Linked DNA regions of Homo sapiens: region 1 is linked to region 2. Evidence: fine-mapped expression QTL. Tissue or cell type: whole blood. Region 2 holds a variant in brackets; the other region holds the start of a gene. All regions are shown on one strand. Distances are from middle to middle.

Evidence for each region. PIP is the estimated chance that this variant, and not a neighbour inherited with it, causes the effect.
Region 1: it holds the start of CAMKK2, and the variant in region 2 is fine-mapped to the expression of CAMKK2 in whole blood (INTERVAL, PIP above 0.99).

The regions. Positions count from the first base shown.
Region 1 is chr12:121,290,474-121,300,350 of GRCh38, reverse strand. It overlaps CAMKK2 (calcium/calmodulin dependent protein kinase kinase 2), which reads left to right and starts at 3,642. Exons shown (of 17, transcript NM_001270485.2): 1 at 3,642-3,713. RefSeq lists a silencer at 2,957-4,106.
Region 2 is chr12:121,238,590-121,248,466 of GRCh38, reverse strand. It overlaps CAMKK2 (calcium/calmodulin dependent protein kinase kinase 2), which reads left to right. Exons shown (of 17, transcript NM_001270485.2): 15 at 3,227-3,327; 16 at 3,852-3,894; 17 at 7,598-9,877. The coding sequence ends at 7,768. Among named protein-coding and RNA genes, the nearest start is that of P2RX4, 33 kb to the right of the region's middle. RefSeq lists silencers at 2,470-2,683, 7,622-7,701. The variant G/A (reference allele first, on the strand shown) is at 4,734.

The DNA.
Region 1 (9,877 bases), 52 kb before region 2:
AGCTGTGTGTATATCTAAGTTTCTGCCTGTGTGAGCTACAGTGTTCTAATAAAACACAGGCAATTTAGTAACATGATGTAAACATACAGAATTGTTTAACAAGTACCAGGAAAAGACATCCAGTAACAGGAAAGGACACCCAAATCTATTTTGGTTACCTTAGTAAAGCAGGGTTGCCAAACTATTTATTGCCCATAAGCTAAATCTGTCATGCCACCTGTTTTTTATGGCCTGCTAAGAATGGTTTTTACGTTTTTCTTTTTTCTTTTTGTCAAGATGGGTCTTGCCATGTTGTCCAGGCTGGTCTCAAACTTCTAGGCTCAAGTGATCCTGCCCCCTCGGCCTCCCAGAGTGCTAAGATTGTAATCACGCGTGTAGGTGTAAGCCACCACACCTGGCCTTTCACATTTTTCAATGGTTAAATAAAAACCAAAACAGTAATATTTTGTGACTTATGAAAATCATATGAAATTCAGTTTTCAGTGTCTGTAAATAAAGTTTTATTGGAACACTGCCGCATGCATTCATTTACTATTTCCTGTGGCTGCTAGGATGGCAGGGTTGAGTAGCTGCATTACAGAGCCTATGGCTTGCAAAGCCTAAAATATTTACTATCTGGCCCTTTACAAAGTTTGCTGACCCTGCCTTAAAGTGCCCCAGATAATCTCCACCAGGCCTGATACATATTTTTTTTGGGGGGGGGGGGGGAAATATGAGAATATAGAAAAATACGGGACTATGCATCCCCCATTCAGAATTGACTATTGCTAACAGTTTGCCATTTGCCTCACAGCCATTTATAAGTACTAAAAGGAATAAAACTTTACAACATTCCTTATGCTCCCTGTCCCGTTCTGTGCTTTTTTCCTTCTTTGTGGCACACTGTCATGAATTTAATGTATATTCTTCTCTTTGACTTTAAAAATCTTGTATGTAAGCATGTGTCCATGAACAGTATCTACTGCATGGGATTTTAAGGTACACACAAATTGTACATCATGTTGTATTCTGCAACTTGCTGTTTTACTCAACATTATGTTTTTGGGATTTCCTTATGTCAGTACAGATCCAGTGCACCCCTTTTATCTATTAGATGGTATTCCATCAAACAACTATAATGAGTTTCATTTATCCATTCCTTTGATGAACATATAGGAAGTTGTTCCCAGGTGGTTTTTTTTTTGTGTTTTTGTTTTGTTTTGTTTTGTTTTTGAGATGGAGTCTTGCTCTGTCACCCAGGCTGGAGTGCAGTGGCATGATCTCGGCTCACTGCAACCTCTGCCTCCCGGGTTTCAAGCGATTCTCCTGCCTCAGCCTCCTGAGTAGTTGGGATTACAGGCGCGCGCCACCATGCCTGGCTAATTTTTGCATTTTTTTTTTAAGTAGAGACGGGGTTTCACCATGCTGGTCAGGCTGGACTTGAACTCCTGACTTCGTGATCTGCCCACCTTGGCCTCCCAAAGTGCTGGGATTACAGGCGTGAGCCACTGTGCCCAGACTTTTTTTTTTTTTTTTGAAACAGTCTTGGTCTGTCGTCCAGGCTGGAGGGTAGTGGTGCGATCTCTCTGCCTCCCGGTTCAAGTGGTTCTCGTGCTTCAGCCTCCTGAGTAGCTGGGATTACGGGCACCGCCACCACACCGGGCTAATTTTTGTATTTTTGATAGAGATGGGGTTTCACCATGCTGGCCAGGCTAGTCTCGAACTTCTGGCCTCAAGTGATCTCTCCGCCCGGGCCTCCCAAAGTGCTGGGATCATAGGCGTGAGCCACCATGCCCGGCCTCAGGTTTTTGCCATTTCCAGCAAATGCATGCACGTTGAGTAACATCAGAAGAGGTGGATGGCCGAGCATGTTGGCTCATGCCTATAATCCCAGCACTTTGGGAGGCAGAGGCAGGAGGATCACTTGAGCCCAGGAGTTTGAGACCAGCCTGGGCAACATAGGGAGAACTCTGTCTCTACAAAAAATAGAAAAAATTAGCCAGGTGTGGTGGTGTGTGCCTGTAGTCCCAGCTACTCAGGAGGCTGAGGCTGGAGGATCACCTGAGCCTGGGGAGGTCGAGGGTGCAGCGAGCCGTGATCGTGCTACTGCACTCCAGCCTGGGCAACACAGAGAGACCCTGTCTCAAAACAAACAAACAAACAAACAAACAAACAAACAAAAAAAACAAAGAAAAAAAAATGGGAGTGGGCCGGGCGCGGTGACTCACACCTGTAATCCCAGCACTTTCGGAGGCCAAGGCGGGTGGATCACGAGGTCAGGAATTCAAGATTAGCCTGGACAACATGGTGAAACCCCATCTCTACGAAAAATACAAAAATTAGCCAAGTATGGTGGCCGGCGCCTGTAATCCCAGCTACTCGGGAGACTGAGGCAGAGAACTGCTTGAACCTGGGAGGCAGAGGTTGCAGTGATCCGAGATCGCGTCACTGCACTCCAGCGTGGGCGACAGAGCGAGACTCCGTTTCAGAAAAGAAAAAAAAAAAAAAAAAAAAGGGAGTCGGGGTGGAGCTCTCATTGGCTCGTTGCATGTGAGTGTCCCTACGGCCTAGAAATACAAGAGAAGCACATCGGAACGGGCTGGAAATCCACCCAGTTAACTAGAGGGCTTTGAACCTTTTATTAACTTGGAGGTTGACTCTCCTGTCAACTCGATTCCCTTTTGGCTGTTTGGCAGGGTCAGTGAGACATCCCCTGGGTCGCTCGACCCCGTAGGACGGTTCAGGGAGCCCTCCAGGTCTTCGTTTCTCCTCTTCCCCGCACAGTGCTGTTATCCAGCTGGGGGATCCAACGCACACTTAAGGCTCCAGCAAAGTAAGTGCCAAAAAGGGGAGAATGGGAAGAATATGCTGTATTTCACAAAAAGCATCTAAGTAGCCATCTGGAAAAGCCAGAATGAACTTCAATGGTGCATCCAGGTGGGCTGGGGATGGGAGAGGAACGCCTTCCCCCAGCCTTTAGGGCCGGCCCTGAGCAAGTGGTCAGTCGGCAGGCAGCTGCGGAAGGGGGCTCCCCCGAGTCGGTGGTGGCCCAAAGTCCAGGCCGCATCCACCGCCCGGCGCCTAGCGCAGGGGCAGCAGCCGGGTCGCCACAGGAGGGGCCCCGGGTGTTCTTGCCGGCTTGGGGGAACTTTCCCAGGGTCAGCCCGGAGGCGCCCTGCAGCCCCGGCATTTGGCTAAACAAAGCAAGCGCTGCCGGCGCGGCCCGCCCGAGGGCGCCGCGGGAAGAACCTGGGCAGGTGCGCGCCGCGGGCGAGCGGGTACAAAGTTGCGGCGCCACCTCCTGCGCTCCGCGCCCCTCCAGGCTCTCCTCCCAGCCGCCTCCGATCCTCCCGGCCGGGCCTCTCTTCCCCCGTTCTTCGCCTCCTCCCTTTCTGCTCCTTGCCCTTCGCCTCTTCGCTACTTTCGTCTTTGCAGGCTCCCGCCTCCCCACCCCTCCCCGGCGCAGGGCCGAGCCGGCGGGGGCGCGCAGGGGGCGGTGCGCGGCGGGCGCGGGCGGTTCCGCTTTCGGGTTTCCCGCCGCCGTGGCCAATCCCCGCGCTGCCCGGGGCGGCGACGCGCCCAAGCCGAGCCGGGCGGCTCCTCCCGCCCCCGCCCCCCGCGCGCCCGCCGCCCGGGCGGAGGAGAGGAGCGCGCGGCCGCGCAGAGCAAGCTGAGCCGAGCCGAGCCGAGCTGGGGGCGCAGAGCGCGGGAGGCGGCGGCGGCGCGGAGCCCAGGTGAGCTGGCGGTAGCCGGGCCCGGGGCAAGGGACGCAGCCGCCGCGGCCCCGGGCGCCCGCTCCGTTTCCCTCTCGAGGCGGGGGACCGCCGCCGGCATGGCACACAAAGCCCGGAGGCTGGCCTGGGGCTCCCAACACGGAGGGACCCCACGTGCGCCTCCCCACGCCCCGCCACGTGGAGGGACACGGTCCCCGACAGCCCTTCCCCCGCGTCCTCTGGGCGCCCTGGGCCTCGGGATGGCCTCCTCGGCTGGGCCGCGCCCTGTCCGGGTGGCAGGGGCGGTCCTGGAGTTTGGAACCGGGGTCACCGGGGGCCGGGTCCGTCAGGGTTCGTGGAGGCGGCCTAGGCCCAGCCCCTCGCGTTTGACAGGTGGGGAAATCTGGAGCGTTCCGGGGAAGAGAGGACCAGCGGACTTGGAGCACCCCCACCCCGCAGCCTGCCTGTCTCGGGGCAAACCCAGGCCCTGGTGGCTTGGACACCAGGTGGCAGGACCCTAGGCCAGCAGTTGTGGGGACCTAGGGGACCTTTGGCTGTCTTCGGTCTGCCCTTTGACCACCCCCACCGCACCTCTTCTCTCAGCCGGAGCCTCACAGGCTTGGTCCTTCTGACCTAAATTCACCTCGGGGTTGCAGTATGCTGTGAATGCGGAGAGGCGTCCGCCTGACTCTCAGGGACACTGGACCCAGCCCCTCTCAGCATTGGGGCTCTGTGCCTGGGGTGCCACCCGACCCAGCCTTGAGCTTTTCCTGGCTTTCCCCCAGCCCCTGCACTGCCTAGCTGGGGAAGTGGGTGCTTTCACAGCTCTGCCAGCCTGCCCTCCTGGCCACTCTCACTTAGTGCTGGACAGGATGCAGCTCAGCCCCTCCGATCTCCCCGAGAAGGCTGAGCTTTGGGGAGGGCGTCTCAGTGCTATCAGCAAGAGAGGGATACCTGGCCTCCGGATGGGACCTGCAGCGTCCATCTCCCTACAGGCTACTTTTACCTTCCCCAGCCTGGTGTTTGGAGTCTCCACGCAGGGGATAGAAACTTCAGGTGCCCTAGAGCTGTGCTGCCATTTACCACTCCCCCTCCCCTAGCTCTGCCCCCAGAGGAGAGAGAAGAGGATGGCTTTATGTCCCCATAAGCTCCTTTGTTCCTTGGAGGAGGCGGGGGCTGCAACAAGGGGAGGGCTTTGGGGGAGTTAGCCACCCTCTTCCCTAATCACCCCACAAAAACATGCAGTTTCAGAATAAATAGTGTGCATGCCATGCAAATGCAGCTTTAGGGCAAGCCCCACATACCCCTTCCAGACTGCTGCTCATACACCCTTCCTATGGAGGAAGCAGGCATTGGTGACACACACCCTTCCTATGGAGGAAGCAGGCATTGGTGATGAGGACGCAAAACATATTTTTGTAATGAAGAGTAATAGCCATCATTTGATGAGCCCCTAACTTGGATAATAATAAGAATACTTATTTATTTATTTTGAGACGGAGTCTCTGTTGCCCAGGGTGGAGTGCAGTGGCACAATCTTGGCTCACTGCAACCTCCGCCTCCCGGGTTCAAGCGATTCTCATGCCTCAGCCTCTCCAGTAGCTGGGATTACAGGCGCCCACCACCATGCCTGGCTAATTTCTGTATTTTTAGTAGAGAAGGGGTTTCACCATGTTGGTCAGGCTGGTCTTGAACTCCTTACCTCAAGTGATCCGCCTACGTCAGTCTCCCAAGTGCTAGGATTACAGGCATGAGCTGCCACCTGGCCCTGGACAATAATAATAATAACAGTATTAAAAACTAACATCTATTGAGTTCTTGCTGCCTGCCAGATTCTGTGCTATGTGTTACATGCATTATCTCATTTAATGCCTACCAAATCCTACAACGTAGGGAATTTTAACCCCATAGTAGAGATTAGGAGACTGAGGTTTACAGAAATCCTGCAGTGTTGCTAGGATTTAGCCCCATTTTATAGAAGGGCTCAGAGAAGTTAAGTAACTTGCTCAGGGTCACACAGCCAGTGCAGGCATGTCAGGCCTTAGAACCTTTGTGCACCTGTTCAAGAGCAGAGACCCTGGCAAGGCTGCCCTGAGCTTCTTGAGGAGCCCAGGAGTTTGTTTTGTTTTGTTTATTCACTACATCAGTGTTTGCCGATGCAGCTCTATGCAGGGTCTGTAGTACTGCCCATCCTTAGATATGGCTAGTGGGCTGGTAGCTAAATATAGTCACTAATAACAATGCACTAGTTCTCATCCGGGGGTGGTCCCACCCTCCTGGCAGGGATTTGGGAAAGTGTGGGGGCGACTTTTGGTTGTCAAAATGATGCTAAGCACTCCTGGCTTTTAGTGGGCGGGAGTCAGGGATGCCTACTAAAGTGTCCTGTAGGCAGGCCAGGGCCACGACATAAAGAATCACCCTCCCCTGGCTGGGCGTGGTGGCTCACGCTTGTAATCCCAGCACTTTGGGAGGCCGAGGCAGGAGGATCACCTGAGGTCAGGAGTTCGAGACCAGCCTGGCCAACATGGTGAAACCCCATCTCTACTAAAAATACAAAAATTAGCTGGGCGTGGTGGCACACACCTGTAATCCCAGCTACTTGGGAGGCTGAGGCAGGAGAATCACTTGAACCTGGAAGGCGGAGGTTGCAGTGTGCTGAGATCGTGCCATTGCACTCCAGCGTGGGGCACAAGAAGGAGACTTCCTCTCAAAAAACAAACAAAAAACAAAAAAAAATCACCCTCCCCCAAATGCCAGCAGTGCCACTGTTGAGAAACACCACAAGGAATGAGTGCTGTTGTGATCGAAGGAGCACAGGGCACTGAGGGTTCTGGAGAAATCTCCTCAGACTGGTGTGAATCTGGGAGGCTCCCTGAAGGAGGTGTCATTTGTGCAGAGCCTTGAAGGATGGGCCAGAAATGGGAGATGGGATGGGAGTAGGAGGGGAAGGGGATAGGGTGGGGTGACCTAGCAGGGAACTTTGTGCAGTAGCCGGGGGTTTCCTCTTTGAGAACCTCATCCTAGATGGAAGATGAGTGGCCAGACACCACTCTCAGGGGAGAGGACCAGGCCAAGTGGGGCAGGCCAAGCCTGTTTTCAAGGCATTTTGGCTCAAATTTTAACATGGGCCACAGAATCACCATTATTCTATCAACTCATTTTATGGAAGCCTCTTTATATGAAGGGCTCAGAGAGGCTGAGTAATTTGCTCAGGGTCACCTGTGATCTTCTTCCCGCCCCAGCATACTTTCTTCTGGTGGTTATGGGAAACATTTCATTTCCTGATCCTGGGGATTTGGGGCAAATGCTATTTCAGATTTTCCTTTAAATCAGAGGGTCTTATATTGCTTATTGCTTTGCTTTGTTTCTTTTCTTTTCTTTGAGATGGAGTTTCCCTCTTGTTGCCCGAGCCAGAGTACAGTGGTGTGATCTCGGTTCACTGCAACCTCTGCCTCCCAGGTTCAAGCGATTCTCCTGCCTCAGCCTCCCGAGTGGCTGGGATTACAGGTACACACCACCAGGCCTGGCTAATTTTTTGTATTTTTAGTAGAAACGGGGTTTCACCATGTTAGCCAGGCTGGTCTCGAACTCCTGACCTCAGATGATCCGCCTGCCTCGGCCTCCCAAAGTGCTGGGATTACAGGCGTGAGCCACGGCGCCCAGCTTTTTTTTTCTTTTTTTTTTTCTTTTGAGATGGGATCCCACTTTGTTGCTCAGGGTGGAGGGCAGTGGTGCTATCATAGCTCACTGTAGTCTCCAACTCCTGGGCTCAAGTGATCCTTCTACCTCAACCACCAGAGCAGATGAGACTACAGGTGCATGCCACCATGCCTGGCTAAAATTTTAATTTCTTTATAGAAACAGGGTCTTACTATTTTGCCCAGGCTGGTCTCGAACTCCTGGACTCAAGTGATCCTCTAGGCTCAGGCTCCCAAAGTGCTGGGATTGGATTATAGCCATTGTGTCTGGCCTACTGCTATTTTTCTTCCATGTTTTGCTTTCCCACTCACTTCTTCTCTTTGGATGGGGTTAGAGAACCTGGATATGGGGTTCAGGCCGGCTGGCTGCATGGTGCTGCTGCAGCCTCAGCCTTGCGTCTGTGTCTCTTTCCTAACAGTTGAGGAAATTGCATTTCCCTTTTGAAACCGATCTTCTTTCAGGCTGTGCTTGTTGCCTTACTGACCTGTTAGTAGAGATTCGTAAGGGCTTCTTTTTAAAAAAATTGAGGAGGGCTGGGCACGGTGGCTCACGCCTGTAATCCCAGCACTTTGGGAGGCCGAGGCGGGTAGATCACTTGAGGTTAGGAGTTCAAGATCAGGCTGGCCAACATAGCGAAACCCCGTCCCCACTAAAAATACAATAAAAATTAGTTGAGCCTGGTAGCTTGTGCCTGTAATCCCAGCCACTCGGGAGACTGAGACAGGAGAATCGCTTGAACCCGGGAGGTGGATGTTGCATTGAGCCAAGATCGTGCCACTGCACTCCTGCCTGGGCGACAAAGCAAGACTCCTTCTCAAAAGAAAAAAAAAATTGAGGTGAAATTCACATAATATAAGCTTAACCATTTTATTTTATTTTGTTTTATTTTATTTATTTATTTTTTTGAGACAGAGTCTCACTCTGTCGCCAGGCTGGAGTGCAGTGGCGTGATCTCGGCTCACTGCAACCTCCAGCTCCTGGGTTCAAGCGATTCTCCTGCCTCAGCCTCCCAAGGAGCTGGGATTACAGGCATGTGACACCATGCCCAGCTAATTTTTGTATTTTTAGTAGAGACGGGGTTTCACCATGTTGGCTAGGATGGTCTTGATCTCTTGACCTCATGATCTGCCCGCCTCGGCCTCCCAAAGTGCTGGGATTACAGGCGTGAGCCACCATGCCCAGCCCAAACTTAACCATTTTAAAGTGAACAATTCAGTGGCATTTAGTACATTTATAATGTTGTACAACCACTACTTCTGTCTAGTTCCAGAGCATTTTCATCACCCCCAGAGGAAACCTTGTACCCATTAAACTGTCACTCTCTCTTCCCAGTGCCCCTCCCTGCAGCCCCTGGCAACCACCAGCCTACTTTCTGTCTCTCTGGATTTGCTTGTTTTGGACATTTCATATAAATAGAATCATGTAATATATGACTTTTGTGTCTGGCTTCTTTCATTCAGCATCATGCTTTCAAGACTGATCCATGCCATAGTGGCTGTCAGTGCTTCATTCGCTTCTGCGGCCCAGTACTATTCCATTGTGTGGATGGACCGCATTTTGTGTATACATTCATCCATTGATAGACATTTGGGTTGTTTCCACCATAAAGGCGTCTTAAGGCTACTTTGTCCATTCCCGTGTCTCTGTAGCCCCTCAGTTAATGAACTTCTTGGCATAAGACATTTTTTTGTCACTCTGTTTGGAGGGAGCAGGTGATGGAAGAAAGGTTTCTTGAAATCACTCAGGAACCAGTTTCCCAACCCAAGGTTTTCGGGATTCCCTTCATGCACCCTTACCTACCCCTTGCAAGAATCGTGGCTCCCCATTTAAACCCATTGCTGGCCAGGCACAGTGGCTTACGCCTGTAATCCCAGCACTTTGGGAGGCCAAGGCGGGTGGATCACTTAAGGTCAGGAGTTCAAGACCAGTCTGGCCAACGTGGTGAAACCCCATCTCTACTAAAAATTCAAAAATTAGCCGGGTGTGTTGACACGCGCCTGTAATCCCAGCTGCTCTGGAGGCTGAGGCAGGAGAATCGCTTGAACCCGGGAGGCAGAGGCTGCAGTGAGCCGAGGTCAGTGTGACTGCACTCCAGCCTGGGTGACAGAGCGAGACTCCGTGTCAAAAAGAAAAAACCACAAAACAATAACAACAAAACAAACCCATTGCCTCCTGGATCAATTCATGGTCATTTCATTACAATTTTCAGGGACAGTCTTGGTTTTATTCAGTTCCATTCTTTTCAGTTACGATGATTTTTTGTGTGTTTTGAGATGGGATCTCACTCACTCGCCCAGGCTGGAGTGCAGTGTTGCCATCATGGCCCACCGTAGCCTCAACCTCCCAGGCTCAAGAGATCCTCCTGCCTCAGCCTCCTGAGTAGCTGGGCCTACAGCCCTGCGCCACCACGCCTGGCTAATATTTTTAATTTTTTTGTAGAGACAGGGTCTTGCTTTGTTGCCCAGGCTAGTCTGAAACTCTTGGGC
Region 2 (9,877 bases):
GGCCTTGGTCATGTATCAGGCCAGGTGACCCCTGCATCTTCTGAGCCAGGTTCCATGTTACCATAGGAAGGGGAAGATTATCCTTCTGGAATTCCTGCTTTCAGAGCTCATCAGGGGAGAGGAACTAGGAGAAGTTCCAGGCAGGGGCAAGGGTTGGGAGCCGGAGCCCAGGTCTCTAAGCCAGGATTCCCGCCTAGCTGGAATTTTAGGCTCCAGGGTGGATGGCGTAGCATATCTCACGTCTGCTGTGTGGGCAGCCACCAGGGGTAGGGGCAGGGACTTCCACGCACACACTCAGAAAGTTCTGCCCATCTCCTGAGAGTGAGAATTGCTTAGGAGCAAGTAGGTCCCCTTTTATGGCCTTGAATTTGGATCCTGACCCAGGAAGAAGGAGCCAGAATGTAGAGTCCTCAGGCCTAACCTTGGAGGCTCTGGGAATCGCCACTGACCAAGTCCCTGTCCAGGAGGGCAGTTAGCTCCAAGAGAGAGACCAAGAGTCCCAGGGATCCAGGTTCCAGGCAGCAGGCTTGGGGACAGAGACCAGCAGGTTGTCCCACCACAGCCACCTCGAAAGGCCTGGTTGCAGTTGGCCAGCACTAGTCCCAGTGGGCCGGCGGGCCCCTGGGCTCTGGGAGGGACCCTTGAGACTGGCTGGAAAGGCACAGAAGGTCCAGCTGTGAAGGATTGCCCCTGTAGGAGCCCAGATGCTGCTCCTGCTCCTCCAGCTTTGCACCTCTCTTCTCTGCTTCCCCACACACTTCCTCTCTCCTCCTCCCAAAGCTGAGCCCTGGCTGGGGCATCCATCCACATCTTCCTCCACTCTTTCCCCACCTGGGGCTGTGCAGGACCTTCACTGTTGAAGACCCACCCACACCCACTCACCCTTCCTCAACCACCCCTTGTGCCTGTAGACGAGGAGACAGCTGGCGTCGGACTCTGCACCCACCGTGGGTTACTGTGTTCCAGGCTCAGGAGGTTCTCAGTCCTGAATCAGTTGCCCTCCCTTTCCTTCCTGGGTCTCTGGGACGGGTTCTTGGGAGAAAGCGTCTGGCCCTGGAGGTCTGGAGTAGGCATTCATTATACGGGAAACACTTGTTGAACACCGAGTGGTTTCTCAGGCCTGTGCTGGGAGCAGGGGCTGGGTGGAGTGATGAACAAAACCCCCATGGCCTCTGCCATGCTTGAGAGGCAGATGCTGGTCAAACCAACAAATGTATGTACAGTGCAGTAGAGGGACCACAGGACATGCCCCTAATGGAGGCACACTTGGACCCACTGGGAAGAAGTGGATAGACACCGAGAGGATGGTAGGGTGTTAACTCCGCCGAGAGAGGGCGGACGGGCTAACACACTGGGTGGGGCCACTGAAGCAGGGCAAGGAAGGTGGAGGGAGGGTGTGGCGAGGTTTTACATGTTTACTCCAAGAGCATGGGTTTGAATCAGGGTTTGAACCAGGGCAGCTGGAGCAGGGATGGGCGGGTAGATACTGGGAAGTGGTCTGACTTGGGACAAGATGGCAAGGTCCAGGCCCCCTGCATGTGTTCATCATTTAGCAAACACGGAGCAGCCAGTGTGTGCCAGGCATAGGTGTCAAAGATGAGCTTAGCCCAGTGCCTGCTCTCAGGGGTAGGGGGCTGGGGGGCTGGGGGAGGGGCTCCTGGCCTTATAAGAAAGATGGACCTGGGAAGAATCAGCCTCCTGTGTGATCAGAGGCCAGTGCAGAGAGATGCAAGGGCTGGGGGCTTCACAGAGGAGGAGCTCCTGCTCTGGGTTGACAAGGCCACAGGGGAGGCGGCAGGGTGGGCTCACCTGGGGAGTGACATCTGCTCAGACACAGAGGAAAGAGGGGCTGGCATGTCCCAGTGACTGTAAGAACCTCAGTAGGGGAAGAGGCCTTCATTCTCTCTCTCTTTTTTTTTTGAGATGGAGTTTTGCTCTCGTTGCCCAGGCTGGAGTGCAGTGGTGTGGTCTTGGCTCACTGCAACCTCCGCCTCCCAGGTTCAAGCAATTCTTCTGCCTCAGCCTCCCATGTAGCTGGGATGACAGGTGCCTACCACCATGCCCAGCTAATTTTTGTATTTTTAGTGGAGACGCGGTTTCTCCATGCTGGCCAGGCTGGTCTCAAACTCCTGACCTCAGGTGATCCACCTGCCTCAGCCTCCCAAAGTGCTGGTATTACAAGCATGAGCCACCACGCCCGCCTCCCCCCCCCCGCTCCTTCTTTTAAATTGAGGTAGAATTCACATAACATAAAATTAAAGTGAACAATTCAGTGACATTTGGGACATTCACAGTGACATGCAATTATCTCCTCAATAGTTCTGAACATTTTCATTACTTCACACCCCCGCCCATCAGCAATGACTCTCCATTCACCTCCCCCCAGCCCTGGCACCCACTCACCTGCCCTCTGTGTCTATAGATTTGTGTATTCTGGTGGAATCCTACACTCTGAGGCCTTTCGGGCCTGGCTACTTTGACGTAGGAGAAGGTTTTCAGGGTCCGTTTGTGTTGTAGCATGGATCAGTGCTTCACTCCTTATGGCTGAATCATGTTCCATTGCACAGACAGACCGCTTTGAGTTTATCTTCTTCAGTTGATGGGCATTTGGGTGTTTGCATCTTTTGGTAAATCAGTGTTTCTTAAACACTTATTTTTCTTGTTAGCAGCAAATGCTTAAAAAGTCAGAAGCTCTGTGAATTCCCAAAACAGCTTGAAGGGGCACCGTGCCCTGGTTGGGGTGGGGTGAGGGGCCCAGTGACTCTTATGGGGCCCTCAGGCCATTCCCTTCATGGGAAATGGCAGCCAAGAGCATCACCAAGAATGACTGGTTCACGTCCTTGCTCCAGAACTTTCCGGGGCTCTCTGGCTGACCACAGGCCAAGTTCCAGACCCCTCTGGGTGGGGATGCTGAGTCAGGGAGTGAGGGGACCAGATCTGGGTTTTGGAAGGGATGGGAGGGAGGGAGGTGGAAAGCAGGGAGGCCTGGGAGAGACGCTGAGCAGTGGCTGAGGGTGTGGTGCAGGACAGCACCTTTTCCCAGAGGATTCTTTCGGCGGGGGTTGGTTGCGGGGTGGTGCTGCCCAGTTTCTCTCAAAGTCTGCCATCGGTCACCAGCCCTGGGAGCTGGCAGGGGCTGGGGAGAAGGAAGAGGGAGGATGTTGCCCAGAATCGCCCCCACATGGCCAAGCAGTTGCCTGCCACCTCCTCTTTTCTCCCTCTTCAGATCCTGGTGAAGACCATGATACGTAAACGCTCCTTTGGGAACCCATTCGAGGGCAGCCGGCGGGAGGAACGCTCACTGTCAGCGCCTGGAAACTTGCTCACGTGAGTGGCCGCCTGCCTTCTTGGGTGGGGGAGTGGTGGCTGGAGGCTAGGCTTGGGGCAGCCCTGCCCAGACCACTCTGCACAGGTCCTCCCTGAAGTGGTGCCATCTGGAGAGACTCAGATGAAACCCACCTGGTGCACTGGGACAGTCAGCACCCCAACCTGGGCTCAGCCCACCTCCTTTTGCTGACAGCTAATCCACCTGAAGTTTACCTTTCTCGGGAACTTGCACTGTAGCTGGGGGGCTCTTGGTCAGTCAGAAGAAAAGCACTTTTGTGGCCCGGGACCGTGAGTGCCTGATGGGGAGGTTTGAGGCTCTGTGCTGGGCGAGCAGTGTGGTCTCACTCAGGACCCTGTGTGTCCATGCAGAGAGGTGTCCACTCATCTGCTGTCAACGCCACCCTGGCTCCAGCTCTATGAAGCTGGTGTTTGGGGTCTGAGTGTCTCAGGGTGGGGGAACGGGCATCCCGTGGATCCCAAGGGTCCCTTCTCACTTCCCTTTTCCCTCCCTCTGGTGATTCCAGCAAAAAACCAACCAGGGAATGTGAGTCCCTGTCTGAGCTCAAGGTAACGCCCGCCTGCCTGTGCCGTAGCCTCTGCTGGGGCCTGAGGGGGGCGGGTGGGCAGCTGCAGAGCACGGGGGCATCCCCACCCGGGCAGATGCTCCTTCCAGCCTGGGCTGCTGTGGCCCGGCTCACCGCGGGCCTCCAGACCCAGTATTAGAATGAGGGGCCTCGGGGGCTTGGACCCAATGGTGGGTCATGCATGTGGGCTGGGGCTGCGGGTGCATGGCGCTCCAGCTGGAATGCCTGAGAATGCACCCAGGTCTGAAGATCCTGTGTGGCACCCATGTCTTCTCAGTGCACGTCAATGGTGTTGAAGCTCTGTCACAGGGCCCATGGGTGCCCCCCCGAGTCCGCATGGTCAGCACATAGGTCAGGCATGCTGCACTGTGTGGCTCTTCGCTAGGGGCTCTCCAGCCTCCACTTCTCTTTCTTTGATGTGTTTAGACCTAGAAAATAAGTCCCCTTCCTGCCTGTTGCAAAGTAACGTAAGAGTTCCCTCACCCGAGTGGATGCAGACCTTCTTGCTGTCAGCCACCCTTCCTTCATACACATAGCCAGCCCAGGTGACCAGAACCTCCCAGGACAGATGAGGCTTTGTGTCCTTATGAGACTGGGAGAACCTGCTGGGCACCCCTGCTGCAGGTGCTGTGGTGGGTGGGGACCCCACTGCCCTTCCCACTGAGCACATCATGGCTACCTGACTTGGTGGGAGCTCCAGGCAGTCACTTCTGTTTCTTAAACATAGCTTTACTGAGGTACAATTCACATACCATGTAATTCACCCACGGGAAGTGTATGATTCAGTGGTTTCTAATACAGACTTCTGCAGCCATTACCACC[G/A]TCAACTTTACGACATTTTCATCAGCCCAAGAAGACACCCTACACTCCTTAGCTGTCCCCATCCAACTCCCCCACCCCAGTAACCACTCAGAATAGGTATGGATTTGCCTATTCTGGACGTTTCGTATAAATGGCGTCATACACTACGTGGCCTTCTGTGTCTGGCTTCTTTCTCTCAGCATCATGTTTTCAAGGTTCATCCATGCTCTACATGTATTAGTGCTTCATTCCTTTTCATGGCCAAATAAGATTCCATTGTTTGGATGCACCTCACTTTGTTCATCCATTCCTCTGTGGATGGACTTGTCTCCACCTTTTGGCTATCGAATGAAGACTGATGCTATGAACATTTGTGTACAAAGTGTTAGGAGTTGGCTTACGAGATGAAATGGATTGACTAGCAGGCTGGATGCAGTGGCTCACGCCTGTAATCCCAGCACTTTGGGAGGCCGAGGCAGGTGGATCATGAGGTCAGGAGTTTGAGACCAGCCTGGCCAATATGGTGAAACCCCGTCTCTACTAAAAATACAAATATTAGCCGGGCATGGTGGCGCACACTTGTAGTCCCAGCTACTCGGGAGGTGAGGCAGGAGAATCACTTGAACCCAGGAGGTGGAGGTTGCGGTGAGCTGAGATCACGTCATTGCACTCCAGCCTGGGCAACAAGAGCAAAAATCTGTCTCAAAAAAAAAGGCTGGGCGCGGTGGCTCACGCCTGTAATCCCAGCGCTTTGGGAGGCCAAGGCAGGCGAATGACGAGGTCAGGAGATCGAGACCATCCTGGCTAACACAGTGAAACCCCGTCTCTACTAAAAATACAAAAAATTAGCCGGGCGCGGTGGCGGGCGCCTGTAGTCCCAGCTACTCGGGAGGCTGAGGCAGGAGAATGGCGTGAACCCGGGAGGCGGAGCTTGCAGTGAGCCGAGATTGCGCCACAGCACTCCAGCCTGGGCGACAGAGCGAGACTCCGTCTCAAAAAAAAAAGAAAAGAAAAAGAAATGGATTGGCCACCCATCCCGTGGGAGTCAGGGCTTATATGGTAATCTAGGAGGAACACCTGTTTGGGAATTATTTATGCTTTTGAGAGAAACCTTGCCCTCCAGCATAGAGCAGGGAAAATGGCAGTCCTTCAGAACCGGTCTTCAGCAGTCTCAGAAGGCAGACACAGTCCCCAGCTTGTGCCCAGACAGACGCCTGGGCAGCCCCGCCTTGGGTGTGAGCCTCACGGATGATGGAGTGGAAACCCAGCGGGCTGGCCTTTCCTCGGCCTTCCTCCTCTCAATCTCCATTTTAGGGTTTGCCAAACCGGGGCTGCCTCCTGTCTCTGAGCAAGTCTGCTGTTGGTTTCTTTCCTATTTTCTTTCTTTCTTTCTTTCTTTCTTTTTTTTTTTTGAGACAGGGTCTTGCACTGTTGCCCAGGTTGGAGTGTTGGAGTGTAGTGGTGTGATCTCGGCTCACTGCAACCTCTGCCTCCTAGGCTCAAGCGATTCTCCTGCCTCAGCTTCCTGAGTAGCTGGGTTTACAGACATGTGCCACCATGCCCAGCTAATTTTTGTATTTTTTTAGTAGAGATGGGGGTTTCACCATGTTGGCCAGGCTGGTCTTGAACTCCTGACCTCGGGTGATCTGCCTGCCTCAGCCTCCCAAAGTACTGGGATTACAGGCATGAGCCACTGTGCCCGGCCTTCGTTTCAATGAGATCAAAATTGCAAGACACCAGCAGATGGAGACTGGCCCCAAAGGGCTATGCTGCCCCTTCCTTTCTTCACCTGGGATCCCCTGCCCTCAGCCCCCAGCAGGTAGGATGCCTTGGTCATGGGAGCTCACAGAGCTGATTCAGGCACTGGGGGTCTTGGACTGGGGGCCTGCCTGCCGTCTGCAGTAAGACCCAACCCCTACCAACAGGCAACTGCGAGGGCAGAGACTGAGGGCCTGACCTAACGTCTAGTTACAGCGCCCCCCTCCCCAGGGACCTTACCCACATTCTCCATCAGAAACATAGCAAGCCAGACATCACGCTTCCTTTCCCTTGTGTAAGGACAGTCTCCCTCCTGGACAGGAGACACGGATTGTTGTGGGGGAAGGACAGACAGTAACCCATGTGGCATGCCCAGTGACCTCCCTAAGAACAGGGGAGCTGTGTGATGGTGGTGAGGGGATAGGCTCGGGGATTCCCCTCGCACCTGTCACGCCATCCACGCTGTCACACCGGCGGCTCCAGCCTGGGCTCTTCAGGGAAACAAGGGCTCTCCTCCTCCCACTTCCAAGAGGGAAGGGGCCTCCTCTTCTGTCTGAGGTGCTCCTCCCTCAGGGCTGGCTGCAGGAGGGCTGAGGCGGGAGGATCCCTGGAGCAGTTGTCATCTGCCCTTTCTTGAGGGCCAGCTGTGTGCCAGGCCAGGCAGGGGAGGCTCTGATCACCCCCACACACAAGGAACTCAACATCTGGTGACTGAGGACAAGCGTCACAGTCCCTTCCCTGTAAGGGCTCATAGCCTAAGTGGGGGATCGAAGTACCTAAAAACCTGGTATGACAGGCGCCGTGGGGTGGGGGGTGCCTTCTACTTGGGATTTGTGCAGTGAATTTTGGTGTTACATAGTTTTGGAACTGTTGTACGGGTCCTTGCTATTTTTGGCAAATGATGCTGGTCTTTCATTTACAGAGGGGCTGCGTGCAAAGTCTCCTTTGAAAAATTTATGTGAGCAAGGAAAAGGGGAGAGGATCTCAAAGACTGGGTTACGTAGATCACGTTCCAGGGGGTGCGCGACGGCCCACTTGGGCAGGGGGCCCAGATGTGGGAGCAGCTGGCTCAGGGCCTCGCTGGCATTTCTCAGAGTCTTAATGTTGGTTTTCTGTTCGGTGAGCAGGAAGCAAGGCAGCGAAGACAACCTCCAGGGCACCGACCCGCCCCCCGTGGGGGAGGAGGAAGTGCTCTTGTGAGAGGCAGTCCCTGCGTGGAAAGTTGCTGGGCCCCCGCCCCCGGCTCCCCCGCACGCATGCATCCACTGCGGCCGGAGGAGGCCATGGAGCCCGAGTAGCTGCCTGGATCGCTCGACCTCGCATGCGCGCCGCGTCGCCTCTGGGGGGCTGCTGCACCGCGTTTCCATAGCAGCATGTCCTACGGAAACCCAGCACGTGTGTAGAGCCTCGATCGTCATCTCTGGTTATTTGTTTTTTCCTTTGTTGTTTTAAAGGGGACAAAAAAAAAAAAAGGACTTGACTCCATGACGTCGACCGTGGCCGCTGGCTGGCTGGACAGGCGGGTGTGAGGAGTTGCAGACCCAAACCCACGTGCATTTTGGGACAATTGCTTTTTAAAACGTTTTTATGCCAAAAATCCTTCATTGTGATTTTCAGAACCACGTCAGATATACCAAGTGACTGTGTGTGGGGTTTGACAACTGTGGAAAGGCGAGCAGAAAACTCCGGCGGTCTGAGGCCATGGAGGTGGTTGCTGCATTTGAGAGGGAGTAGGGGGCTAGATGTGGCTCCTAGTGCAAACCGGAAACCATGGCACCTTCCAGAGCCGTGGTCTCAAGGAGTCAGAGCAGGGCTGGCCCTCAGTAGCTGCAGGGAGCTTTGATGCAACTTATTTGTAAGAAGGATTTTTAAATTTTTTATGGGTAGAATTGTAGTCAGGAAAACAGAAAGGGCTTGAAATTTAATAAGTGCTGCTGGAAGGGGATTTTCCAAGCCTGGAAGGGTATTCAGCAGCTGTGGTGGGGAAACATTTCTCCTGAAAGACTGAACGTGTTTCTTCATGACAGCTGCTCAAAGCAGGTTTCTGAGATAGCTGACCGAGCTCTGGTAAATCTCTTTGTCAAATTACGAAAACTTCAGGGTGAAATCCTATGCTTCCATGTACATTACATGGCTTAAGATTAAACAAAAACATTTTTCAAGTCTCTAACTAGAGTGAACTCTAGAGCACAGTAGTTCAGAAACTATTTAGAGCTTCCAGGATATATTTCACAGCTTCAGGCATGTGATCAGTTAGAGCCGATGAAACCTATGCCCGCCTGTATATATATTAGCAGCTTAGCTAGTTCATAACCTGTATATTCTAAAGACTGCTAAGGTTTTGTTTTCATTTTAAATCCTAGCTGATTGTTGTGGTCAATGAAATACCCAGTTTCTGGAGGGCCAGGTGGGAAATGCTTTCACTGGACCAACACACAAATGATCATCCTGAGGATCTGAGCTTCCCTAGACTCCACACAATAACCTTGGGGCACCCTTTTAGAGAAGACTGTTGAAACCCACAGCACTCGTTGGGGTATGAGGAAACCAGGGCTTGGCACAGGAAGTTCCCCTTTGTAGCTAAAAGTCCAGAAAGAAAGGGTTCATCTTTTTGACTTCCAACTGATATTGGGAAGTTTGGTTGAGGTTCAAGTGTGACTCCTTCCAGAGCCACAGGTAGGGGAGTGTGAAGTTGAGGGGGAGGAAAGCTGGAAGGACTCTGCCTTGGGAGATTCCCAGCTCTGCTTTCCAGCGCTTGGTGGAATCTGGGCTGGGGAAAGACGGCACCGGGAAACTCTGCTTCCCCATTGTTTCCATCTGATCAGCTGTGGTGTGAGGACTTCTCAGACAAAGGCAAGGCCTCGTGCCCCTGCCCAGCCCATTCATGGAGCCCTGGGCCTTCTTGGCTTCCATAGATCCTAAGCTCTTGACTGTAGTTTAGCCAGACTTGTTTTGCTATCTTATAAGCAGTTCAGAATTAGGGAATGCTGGTTTTGAAGAGCAAAGGACAGGTAGTCTAGAGAGGGTCGTCTGGCCTGCTTGCTGGGTCTTTGTAACCCAGCACTTCCTCTTGCCCTCCTGGCTTTATGTTTATGGGGAGAGGACTCAATAGCTCCACCCCTTCTGGCACCAGATGGGGCTTGGTTAGTTTGCAATAAGCACCTTGCAGAGGTTAAAGCCAGCGGGTCCCTAGTCTTAGGCCCAGCCTGCTTGTGTGGGCTCTGGCCTGGCCTGGTGGCTGGCCCAGGGGGCAGCAGTGCTTAGAGCTTCTGCAGGGCTTCTCTTGTTTACACAGCTGCATCAGACAATGCCATTTCTCCCCACCACGGAACCTTCCATCTAAGATTTCTTCCAGGGAATGCCAGCAATCAGGCAGCACCCAGCTGTGGGGGCAGTGGGGTGGGGGA